2 separate regions of the Homo sapiens genome follow, and region 1 is linked to region 2. Evidence: fine-mapped expression QTL. A gene starts in region 2. The other region holds a variant in brackets. All regions are shown on one strand. Distances are from middle to middle. Region 1 has its middle 59 kb from the start of PUM1. Region 2 holds the start of PUM1 (pumilio RNA binding family member 1).

The links. PIP is the estimated chance that this variant, and not a neighbour inherited with it, causes the effect.
Region 1: its variant is the best candidate, but not a certain one, in a credible set for the expression of PUM1 in whole blood (TOPMed, PIP 0.52).

What each region holds. Positions count from the first base shown.
Region 1 is chr1:31,121,939-31,127,314 of GRCh38, forward strand. No RefSeq gene overlaps it. Among named protein-coding and RNA genes, the nearest start is that of PUM1, 59 kb to the left of the region's middle. RefSeq lists an enhancer at 248-749. The variant T/A (reference allele first, on the strand shown) is at 2,294.
Region 2 is chr1:31,063,709-31,069,084 of GRCh38, forward strand. It overlaps PUM1 (pumilio RNA binding family member 1), which reads right to left and starts at 2,009. Exons shown (of 22, transcript NM_001020658.2): 1 at 1,908-2,009. RefSeq lists enhancers at 1,666-1,985, 1,853-2,767 and a silencer at 2,096-2,315.

The DNA.
Region 1 (5,376 bases), 58 kb after region 2:
AGAAGGGCAGGGAGTGACTTCCCAGGGCAGTGGAGGTGTTTTTATCTTGAGAACGGTGTGGGTTACAGAAGTGTATGCTTCTGTCAAGACTCAACCAACTCCACTTAAAATCTAAGGATTTCATTCTAAGAAAATTATACCCCTGTTAAAAGATGTTAAAAAGTGGAGGAGCATGATTATAGATGACAAGTAAGTGTGCAAGTGAGTTAAAAGACTTACCAACTCTGCCCATCCCCCCTCCAAAAAAGGCATGCAAATTAGCAAGTGAAGATGAGAAAGAGCTGGGTGAGCAGGCCAGGCAGGCCAAAACTCTCCTCCCGGTCTGCCTGGAGGCAGCCTGATTTTCTCTCCAGCACAGATGTCTCTAAGCAGCTGCTGATCACAGTGAGCCTGGGGGCCCTAGGCTCTGGCAAGTACACTCTGTTGTCCAGCATCATCGCACTCCAGCTAAAATGTGTCTCCAGCAGGCAACTGCTCCAAGACCACGTGCTGAAGGAACTAGACGTCGGTGTTCAGTGGAGATGTTCATTGTTGGGTGGGTATGGTGGCTCATGCCTGTAATCCCAGCAACTTTGGGAGGCTGAGGTGGGAGGACCTCTTGAGCCCAGGAATTGGAGGCCAACTTGGGCAACATAGCGAGACCCCATCTCTATGAAAAATTTAAAATTAGCCAGGCATGGTGTTGTGTGCTTGTAGTCCCAGGAGGAAACAGGAGGATCACTTGAGCCCAGGAGGTCAAGGCTGCAGTGAGCTGTGATTGCACCACTGCACTCCAGCCTGGTTAACAGAGACCCTGTCTCAAAACAAAAGAGCAAAAAAACAAAAAAAAAGCCTTCCATTGTCCATGGGATGCTCCACAATGTGATGCAGCTGAAAAGCCGCACCTACTAGAGCGGCTAATGGATGAGGTTTATCTGACAGGCACAATATTCAACCCCAGCCTGCCTTCGAAGACTGCTAAGCACAGCATTCCCACTCCCTGGATCCCTGGAGCCAGTGCTGTGTGTGTCGTGCTGAATTCGACCCTCCACAGCCTATTGGTAACTGTGCTCTGACCGAAGTCTGTTGCCAAGAGACCAAAGCTTGGGAAGCCCCGAGGAACGCTGTTTTGCAATATTAATAGGAAAAAAAAGGTCAGAAACATTCTCCTGAACATAAACCAAGAAGATCTACCCCCATTTACACCATTTCCTACAAAGAAAAAGAAAGTGGCACAAATAAACCAGCCAGAAAGCAGCAGTTACTTCCAGATAAAAAAGGGATAATTAGTAAGATGAGCAGAACCTCCTTTCCCTGCCATTCAGATTCTGGGCCTAAGAATCTAGCAGACAGAAATACTTTTAGATTATATTTCCATTTCACTTCCACTAATTTTGATCTGGATACCAAAAGATGTGCAAAATAGCCCAATAGTAAGATTTAGTTTTTAGGCTGGGCACAGTGGCTCACGCCTGTAATTCCAACACTTTGGGAGGCCAAGGCAGGCAGATAGCATGAGGTCAGGAGTTCGAGACCAGCCGGGACAACATGGTGAAACCCTGTCTCTACTAAAAATACAAAAAAAAAGAAAGAAGAAAAAAGTTAGCCCGGTGTGGTGGTGCACACTTGTAATCCCAGCTACTCCGGAGGCTGAGGCAGGAGAATTACTTGAACCGGGAGGCAGAGGTTGCAGTGAGCCGAGATCGCACCACTGCGCTTTAGCCTGGGTGACAGAGCGAAACTCTGTCTCAAAAAACAAAAACAAAAACAAAAAACCATCAAGTGACATTTAGAAAAAAAAATTTTTTTTTGGTTTTTATGTTTTATTTCATTTTTTGAGACAGGGTCTTGTGCTATCATCCAGGCTGAAGTGCAGTGGTGCGATCATAGCTCACTGCAGCCTCTTAACTCTTGGGCTCAAGGGATCCTCTCACCTCAGCCTCCCAAGTAGCTGGAATTATAGGTGTGTGCCATCAAGCCTGATTAATTTTTTAAATTTTTTTGTAGAGATGGAATCTCCCTGTGTTGCCCAGGTTGGTCTCGAACTCCTGACTCAAGCAATCCGTTCACCTTGGCCTCCGAAAGTGCCGGGATTACAGGGACAAGCCACCATGCCTGACCAAAAATATTATTTTTAAATGGCTTGCTTTTATTTTTCTTTTAAAAGTACGTATGTTTTGAGTGTTATAATTTATGCTAGAATTTGACACCATGATAAGAGTGCTTGAACAAGCACCAAATTTGCTTTTTTTTTTTTTTTTTTTTTTCAGACAGTCTGGCTCTTTCGCCCAGGTGGAACTGCAGTGGCGCTATC[T/A]CGGCTCACTGCAAGCTCCGCCTCCCGGGTTCACACCATTCTCCTGCCTTAGCCTCCCGAGTAGCTGGGATTACAGGCGCCCGCTACCGCGCCCGGCTAATTTTTTGTATTTTTAGTAGAGACGGGGTTTCACCGTGTTAGCCAAGATGGTCTCGATCTCCTGACCTTGTGATCCACCCGCCTCGGCCTCCTAAAGTGCTGGGATTACAGGCGTGAGCCACAGCGCCCGGCCCTAATTTTTTTTTTCTTTTTTATTTTTGAGAAAAGATTTCACTGTCACCCAGGCTGGAGACAGTGGCACGATTTCAGCTTACTGCAACCACGACCTTCTGGGCTCAGGTGATCCTCTCACCTCAGCCTCCTGAGTAGCTGGGACTACAGGTGTGTGCCACCACGCCTGGCTAATGTTTGTATTTTTTTAAGAAATGGGGTTTTGCCACATTGCCCAGGCTGGTCTTGAACTCCTGGGCTCAAGTGATCTGCCTGCCTCAGCCTCCCAAAGTGCTAGGATTACAGGTATGAGCCACCACACCCAGCCTCTTTAATTTTTTTCTAGGGAAAAGCTGAATTAGATCACATGTTTTCAGAGGTTTCTCAGTTTAAGGAATTTGTGTGTTGGCCAGGCGCGGTGGCTCACACCTGTAATCCCAGTGCTTTGGGAGGCAGAGGCAGGCGGATTACCTGAGATCAGGAGTTCGAGACCAACCTGGACAGCATGATGAAACACCATCTCTACTAAAAATACAAAAATTAGCTGGGTGTGGTGGCACACATCTGTAATCCCAGCTTTCGGGAGGCTGAGGCAGGAGAATCGCTTGAACTGGGAGGCAGAGGTTGCGGTGAGCTGAGATTGTGCCACTACTGCACTCCAGCCTGGGCGACAGAGCGAGACTCCATCTCAAAAAAAAAAAAAAGAAAAGAAAAGAAAAGAAAAGAAAAAAGAAATGTGTGTGTTGGCAGGGTGCGGTGGCTCGCTCACTCCAGCACTTCGGGAGGCCGAGGTGGGCGGATCACCTGAGGTCAGGGGTTTAAGACCAGCCTGGCCAACATGGCAAAACCCCGTCTCTACTAAAAATACAAAAATTAGCCGGCCGAGGTGGCGGGCACCTGTAATCCCAGCTATTCAGGAGGCTGAGGCAGGACAATCACTTGAACCTGTGAGGCGGAGGTTGCAGTGAGCTGAGATCATGCCGCTGCACTCCAGCCTGTGTGATAGAGCGAGACTCCGTCTCAAAAAAAAAAAAAAAAAGAAAGAAATGTGTGTGTTGCAATCCACTTCCCAGTTTTTCTTTTTTCTGCCCAAATATGCCTTAATGGGTAACAAATCAGAGCACAGTAAAAGGAACAAAAGATAACCCATCGCACTGTGCACATCAAGCCTTCTTTGTCATTAGGAAATAGAAATACATTGAGCATATCTGGATTAAAATATCTCTTGCACTCATAATTAGTAAACAAGAATAGCAACAAAGAGACCACACGTAGTTAGGTCCCAGGTTAAGGAGGTATTGGAAAATAAGTTAGTTTGCTGGAGAATGATCATTAAGTTCTTTGTTCCTGGTGAAAGTCGTTGAAACTGGCTAGCTTTCAGGCTCTCCCATCTCAGGGCTATTGAGTATAATCTGAGCAGCCATTCTGTAATCATTATGGGACTTGGATTCCTGAGTGAGGTAAAGAGGATGTGCATTTATGATGGTCAGACTTGGGGCGGGATAGGTTAGGGAGCTGTGAGCTGTGTAGCAGAGATGGAGGGGCCACTCAGTTATGTGCAAAATTACACATTTCACGCTGAGATTATTGTGCTAAATCAAATGACTGTTCATATGGCGAATGTTATTAACTGCCTTTGAAAGTGTGTTCCACCTCCTAATACTTTAAACATTTTAATACACTGTCAGTCTTTCATCACGGACAAGACTCTCTGCTTGTTCTTGGCAGACGAAAAAAGAAAATGGACAAGGCCTTTAATAGGATTACAACTACATTTTACTCTCCACATTTCCTTCTTTATTAAACTTTCTATATGCCACAATTTTAACATTGATATCAGCCGGGTGCAGTGGCTCACGCCTGTAATCCTAGCACTTTGGGAGGCTGAGGCAGGTGGATTACCTGAGGTCAGGAGTTCGAGACCAGCCTGGCCAACATGGTGAAATCTCATCTCTACAGAAAATACAAAATTAGCCAGGCATGGTGGCGCATGCCTGTAATCCCAGCTACTTGGGGGGCTGAGGCAGGAGAATCACTTGAACCGAGGAGGCGGAGGTTGCAGTGAGCCAAGATCGTGCCACTGCACTCCAGCCTAGACAACAAGAGTGAAACTTTGTCTCAAAAACAAAACAAAACAAAACAAAAAAATTTGATATCTTGTGCTTTTCAAAGTTGTTATGAGATGTTAGACTAAATGATCCATCACTAGGCTCTGAAACATTCTTTATTGCTTTATTATAATATAATTAAATTGTGGCCAGGCACGGTGGCTCACACCTGTAATCCCAGCACTTTGGGAGGCCAAGGCGGGCAGATCATGTGAGGTCAGGAGTTTGAGACTAGCCTGGCCAATATGGTGAAACCCCATCTCCACTAAAAATATAAAAATTAGCCAGCATGGTGGCAGGTGCCTGTAATCCCAGCTACTCAGGGGGCTGAGGCAGGAGAATCGCTTGAACCTGGGAGACAGAGGTTGCAGTAAGCCGAGATCGTGCCATTGCACTCCAGCCTGGATGACAAGAGTGGAACTCCATCTCAAAATAATAATAATAATGATAATAGTAAAATTGCAGGAAAAAATGTAGTACTAAGAAATTGACCCAGAAGGAAAAGGGAAGGAAAAGGAAAAGAGGGAGAAAATAAGAAATAGGGAGGCCATTCTGAGAGCATCTAACATACAGTCCAGGAGTTGAGAATGGGGTGGATGGCAAATACTTTAAGAAATAAGATCTGAGGATTTTTCCAGAATAGAAGAAAGACATGAGCCTTCAGATTAAAAGTACCTAAATACTGAGTAGCTTCAATAAAAATAAGTCATCAAACACATCAAACTGATAGCTGTGGTAGCCTCTAAAAGGGTTGGGATTGGTTTG
Region 2 (5,376 bases):
AAAAGGAATGGGGGAAAGAAAAGACTCCTATAAAAATGTTCAAACGAAACAATTGGCTTTTGTAAAGCTATCTGTATGCCCTAAGACTTCCTGCTTTACCTAAAGAGGCAAGGCAGTTTCTCAAACCAGAGAAAACCTGGCAGAACAGTTTCAAAGTGAGCAAATACCTAAGCAATTAACATGTTATCTTGGGTAGTTTTGTGGTATTTTGGCAAATACGGCACAAAAATTAAAAACTCAGTATCCTAAATATCAGAAAAGCTCACTAATACGTGTAGCATTTAAAATGTGATTTTTTTACAAATGACACCTTATAAGTACTTTAAGCAACTAGAAGTGCTCAGTCCAGCTACTCTTTCACAGCTTTCAAATGTTTACAAAGTTTTTTAAAATATCACTAATTGAGTTGAATTCAAAGGAACACGGTTTACTTTATTTCCATGGCTCACCTTTTACTAAAATGCTTAGTGGTTTAAAAGGTGTTTATTTTTACCACACTTAACAAACATTCTGTGGTCATAAATTTATCTTAAAACAGTTCATTTTAAACCTAAACTAAACAAATTCCAACTTCAAAAAGCTGTGGCCTTGAACAAAATGAATTCAATTGTCGCTAAAGCAAAACACTAACTCAAAGTTCAGAATCCGGAGAGCGTTTCCCAAGAGCCCAGATAAAGAATCAACAGCCCCCCAGTGTTTTATAAAGTTAAAATTAGCAAAGGGTCAAAATGTTTATTTTGCTTACGAAAACTGCATCGGAAGCCACATTTCTTGGGGTTGGGCCTGTCTTAGTAAGTTTTTAGGTGCTTTCAAGAAACAAAATGCTAAGCCTATTGTTTCAGAAGTTAACTGACTTTAAAACAGAACCCAGGAAAAGCTTCATAAAATCTTATTCTTAATTAATCCCAGTAATAACAGGAATTGAGCAAAATGGTATCGAGGGCTGAGAACAGTGTTTTCTTAATTGAACAATAAAAGGTAACAATCTAAGTTACGGGAGAATAAAGCCTTCTCTGGTAATGCTGTGTGTGGGTTTCTGGCTTTGTTTTTTCAGCGGGGGGGGGGGGGGGGGCTATAGGAGGGAAAAGTTACAGGAGTGTATTCCTCACTTGACGTGGGAATGGTACTGACAAGTAAAACAAATGATCTATGTTTACCAAGCATGTTTGTGAGGACTAAAACTAGTATTGTGTATCTAGATTTTCCTACTAGCAAGGGGTGAACCCCTCTTTGAGTGAAGAGAGACACCAACACCGGGAGGCTCAAAAAGGAAGAACCCACCAAAAACACAAGCTCACACGGAAACAAAAGGCCACAGCAACCCAGGAGCCTAAAAAGCATTCTGAAACTTCCTGATCGCCACTTCTCCACATTTAAGGCTCGCAAAGTTCCCCCACGGTGAATCTCGCCTGTGGACAAGGGCCACGGCTGCTTCTAAAGCGATTTATTGTTCCTCCTCCTCCGGCGCTGCCACGGAAGCTCAAGAAGTCGAAGAAATCGGGGTGGCACAGAATTACACTTCATGGCCACACAGAAGACTCGGGGCTTCGCAAACCCATCAAAAAAAGCAACCCGAATGGCAACATCAATCTTCGGTGGTTCCCAACAGGGCCAGGCAAAAATGTAGAGGCACGTCTACGCCCTGGGCTCGGGCCTAAACCCCCAGCATTTTCCTAGCTTCGACCCCGCTCCCCACCCCCTCCCTCCTTTGATAACAATAGGGGCCTTGCTGCTGACTCCAAAACATGTACGAGGAACAGCGAGTGAGAAGCCTCAGCCAGGGCCCCGGCGGCTTTTCCAAAGCCCTTCTCACCCCCACAACCACTCTCAAACACCAATATGAAGGGACAATCTGCTCGTTAGGGGTCCGGAGCAGCGTTTGGGGCCGGTGGGGTGCGGATACTCACGGGCGGAGCGGTAGGATGAAGATGGATTTCAGCCCCCCGATCTTCTCTCTCTGGCGCTCTCGCTCCCCCTTACCTTTCACTCCGACAACATGGCGGCCCACTGGGGACTGGGTTGGCGCGGTGCATCCTGGGATAGGCTCCGGCCCCGGCCCCGGCGGTGGCAGCGGCATGTGCGGAGAAGGCTGGCGGCTCTGGAACAGGTTGCCTGGTTGCCATGCCAACCCAGGGCCTGTGTGAACTCGGGAAACTCGCAGGCAACACAAACGCTGCGCGCGAGTGCCCGCCCGCTAGGCGAGCGCGCGCCGCCAGGGCCGAAGGCGGGGTCCCGCCGGCCCGCACCTGGGAGAACACGGCCTGGAGCTGGGCACGCGGGGTTGCGCCGGTGACGCTCCACCGAGTCTCGGACGCGCTCCTCGCGCCCGCCGCGCCCTCGGAAGCTTGCCCCCGAGCACCACAGCTAGCAGGGTTCGCGGACGGCCACCCGCACTGCCCTGGCCCCAGAGGTGCAGGGTTCAAACCCCTTCTCTGCAGCTTTCTAGCTCTGCGGCCTTATTTAAATCGACCTGCCTCCATTTCCACATTTGTACAATGAAGAAGAAAATAACCCCCACTTAACAGAATGGCCTGGAGGATTAAGTGGAATAATGTATGTTAAGTGCTTTTAGTCTTACTGTCTCAAACTAAACTCAAAATAGATTGAAGGCCGGGCGCGGTGGCTCACGCCTGTAATCCCTGGACTTTGGGAGGCTGAGGCGGGCGGATCATGAGGTCAGGAGATCGAGACCATCCTGGCTAACATGGTGAAACCCTGTCTCTACTAAAAATACAAAAAAATTAGCCGGGCGTGGTGGCGGGCACCTGTAGTCCCAGCTACTCGGGAGGCTGAGGCAGGAGAATGGCCTGAACCTGGGAGGCGGAGCTTGCAGTGAGCAGAGATCGCGCCACTGCACTTGAGCCTGGGCGACACGGAGAGGCTCCGTCTCAAAAAAAAAAAAAAAATAGATTGAAAACAGACAAATCGCAATACTGTAAAAGACCAGAAGAAGATATGGGGAGAAGCTCTATAATTGGAGGAGGGAAAATGTTTATACTCATGAATCAAAGTCAAAAGATCATAAAAGAAAATATTGAAAGAAATATAAACATCTGTACGAGAAGAGATGCCATCAACAAAGTAGAACAAATGGATAAAAAATATTTGCAGTACACGGCCAGGCGCGATGGCTCATGCCTGTAATCCCAGCACTTTGGGAGGCCGAGGCGGGTGGATCATGAGGTCAAGAGATCAAGACCATCCTGGCCAACATGGTGAAACCCCGTCTCTACTAAAAATACAAAAAAATTAGCCGGGAGTGGTGGCGGGCGCCTGTGGTCCCAGCTACTGGGGAGGCTGAGGCAGGAGAATCACTTGAACCCAGGAGGCAGAGGTTGCAGTGAGCCAATATTGTGCCACTGCACTCCAGCCTGATGACAGAGCAAGACTCCGTCTCAAGAAAAAAAATATATATATATACACATATATGTATATATACATATATACATATATATACACATATATACATATATACACATATATACATATATACATATATACACATATATACATATATAAACATATATATACGTATATATACATATATATATATTTGCAATACACATGATAAGGAAATGGTTGATCATCATGATAAATGCAAAATTTCTCCCATCAGGGTCCTGGTGGGGTGGCTCACACCTGTAATCCCAGCACTTTGGGAGGCAGAGGTGGTAGAATTGGTTGAGGCCAGCAGTTTGAGACCAGGCTGGGCAACATAGTGAGGCCTCGTCTCTACAAAAAGTTAAAAATTATCTGGGCATGGTGGCACACATCTGTAGTCCTAGCTACTTGGGAGCTAAAGCAGGAGAATTCCCTTGAGCCCAGGAATTGAGCTGCAATGAGCTATGATTGGGCCACTACATTCCAGCCTAGGAGACAGAAAGAGGCCCTGTATCAAATAAATAAATAAATAAAATCTGTAATCAATTTCTAAAAATCCGAAATGGGCTGGGCGCAGCGGCTCATGCCTGCAATCTGAACACTTTGGGAGGCCGAGGCAGGCAGATCACTTGAGGTCAGGAGTTCGAGACCAGCCTGGCCAACATGGTGAAACCCCATCTCTACTAAAACTACAAAAATTAGCCGAGCGTGGTTATGGGCGCCTGTAATCCCAGTTACTCTGGAGGCCGAGGCAAGAGAATCGCTTGAACCCAGGAGGTGGAGGTTGCAGTGAGCTGAGATGAAGCACTGCCTGGGAAACAGAATGAGATTCCATGTCAAAAGGAAAGAAATAAATCCAAAATAAAATAAATCCAAAATAAACAAACATAACAAAATCACATACAGCCAAGAAACATAAAAGTAGCCTGGGGTTGAGGGATGAAAGAGCAGAAATGGGAAGGTACTGCTAATGGGTATGGGGTCTCCTTTTGGAGTGTTGAAAACCTTTTAAAATTAGAGTGCGATGACGGTTGCAAAACTGTGAGTATACCATAAACCACCAAAGTAGACACTTTATGATTTAAATGGTGAATTTGTATTTTACTTTTGTTTTTCGAGACAGGGTCTCCCAGGTTAGAGTGCAGTGGTGTAACCATGGCTCACTTGTAGGCTTGAACTCCAGGGCCCAAGCGATCCTCTCACCTTGGCCTCCTAAGAAGTTGGAACTTCAGCCATGCACCAACACACTTAGCTAATTTTTTTGTTTTTGTTTTTGTTTTGAGATGAGTTCACCCTGTGTTGCCCAGGCTGGTAAATTAGTGAATTTTAGGCCGTGTATGGTGGCTCATGCCTGTAATCCCAAAACTTTGGGAGGCTGAAGCAGGCTGATGACTGGAGGTCAGGAGTTCAAGACCAGCCTGGCCAACATGGTGAAACCTCATCTCTACTAAGAATACAAAAATTAGCTGGGCGTAGTGTCAGGTGCCTGTAATACCAGCTACTTGGGAGACTGAGGCAGGAGAATCACTTGAACACGGAAGGCAGAGGTTGCAGTGAGTAGAGATTGCACCATTGCACTCCAGCCTGGGTGACAAGAGCCAGACTCCGCCTCAAAAAAATAAAATAAAATAAAATAAAATAGTGAGTTTTATGGTATATGAAATATATATCGGCCGGGCACGGTGACTCATGCCCGTAATCCCAGCAATTTGGGAGGCCGAGGCAAGCGGATCATGAGGTCCTGAGATCGAGAACATCCTGACCAACATGGTGAAACCCTGTCTCTACTAAAAATACAAAAATTAGCTGGGCGTGGTGGTGTGCACTTGTAGTCCCAGCTACTTGGGAGGCTGAGGCAGGAGAATCACTTGAGACTGGGAGGCGGAGGTTGCAGTGTGACGAGATCTCGACACTGGATTCCAGCCTGGCGACAGAGCAAGTTTCCGTCTCAAAAAAAAAGTTTTATATATATATATAATCTCAAAGCTGTAAAAG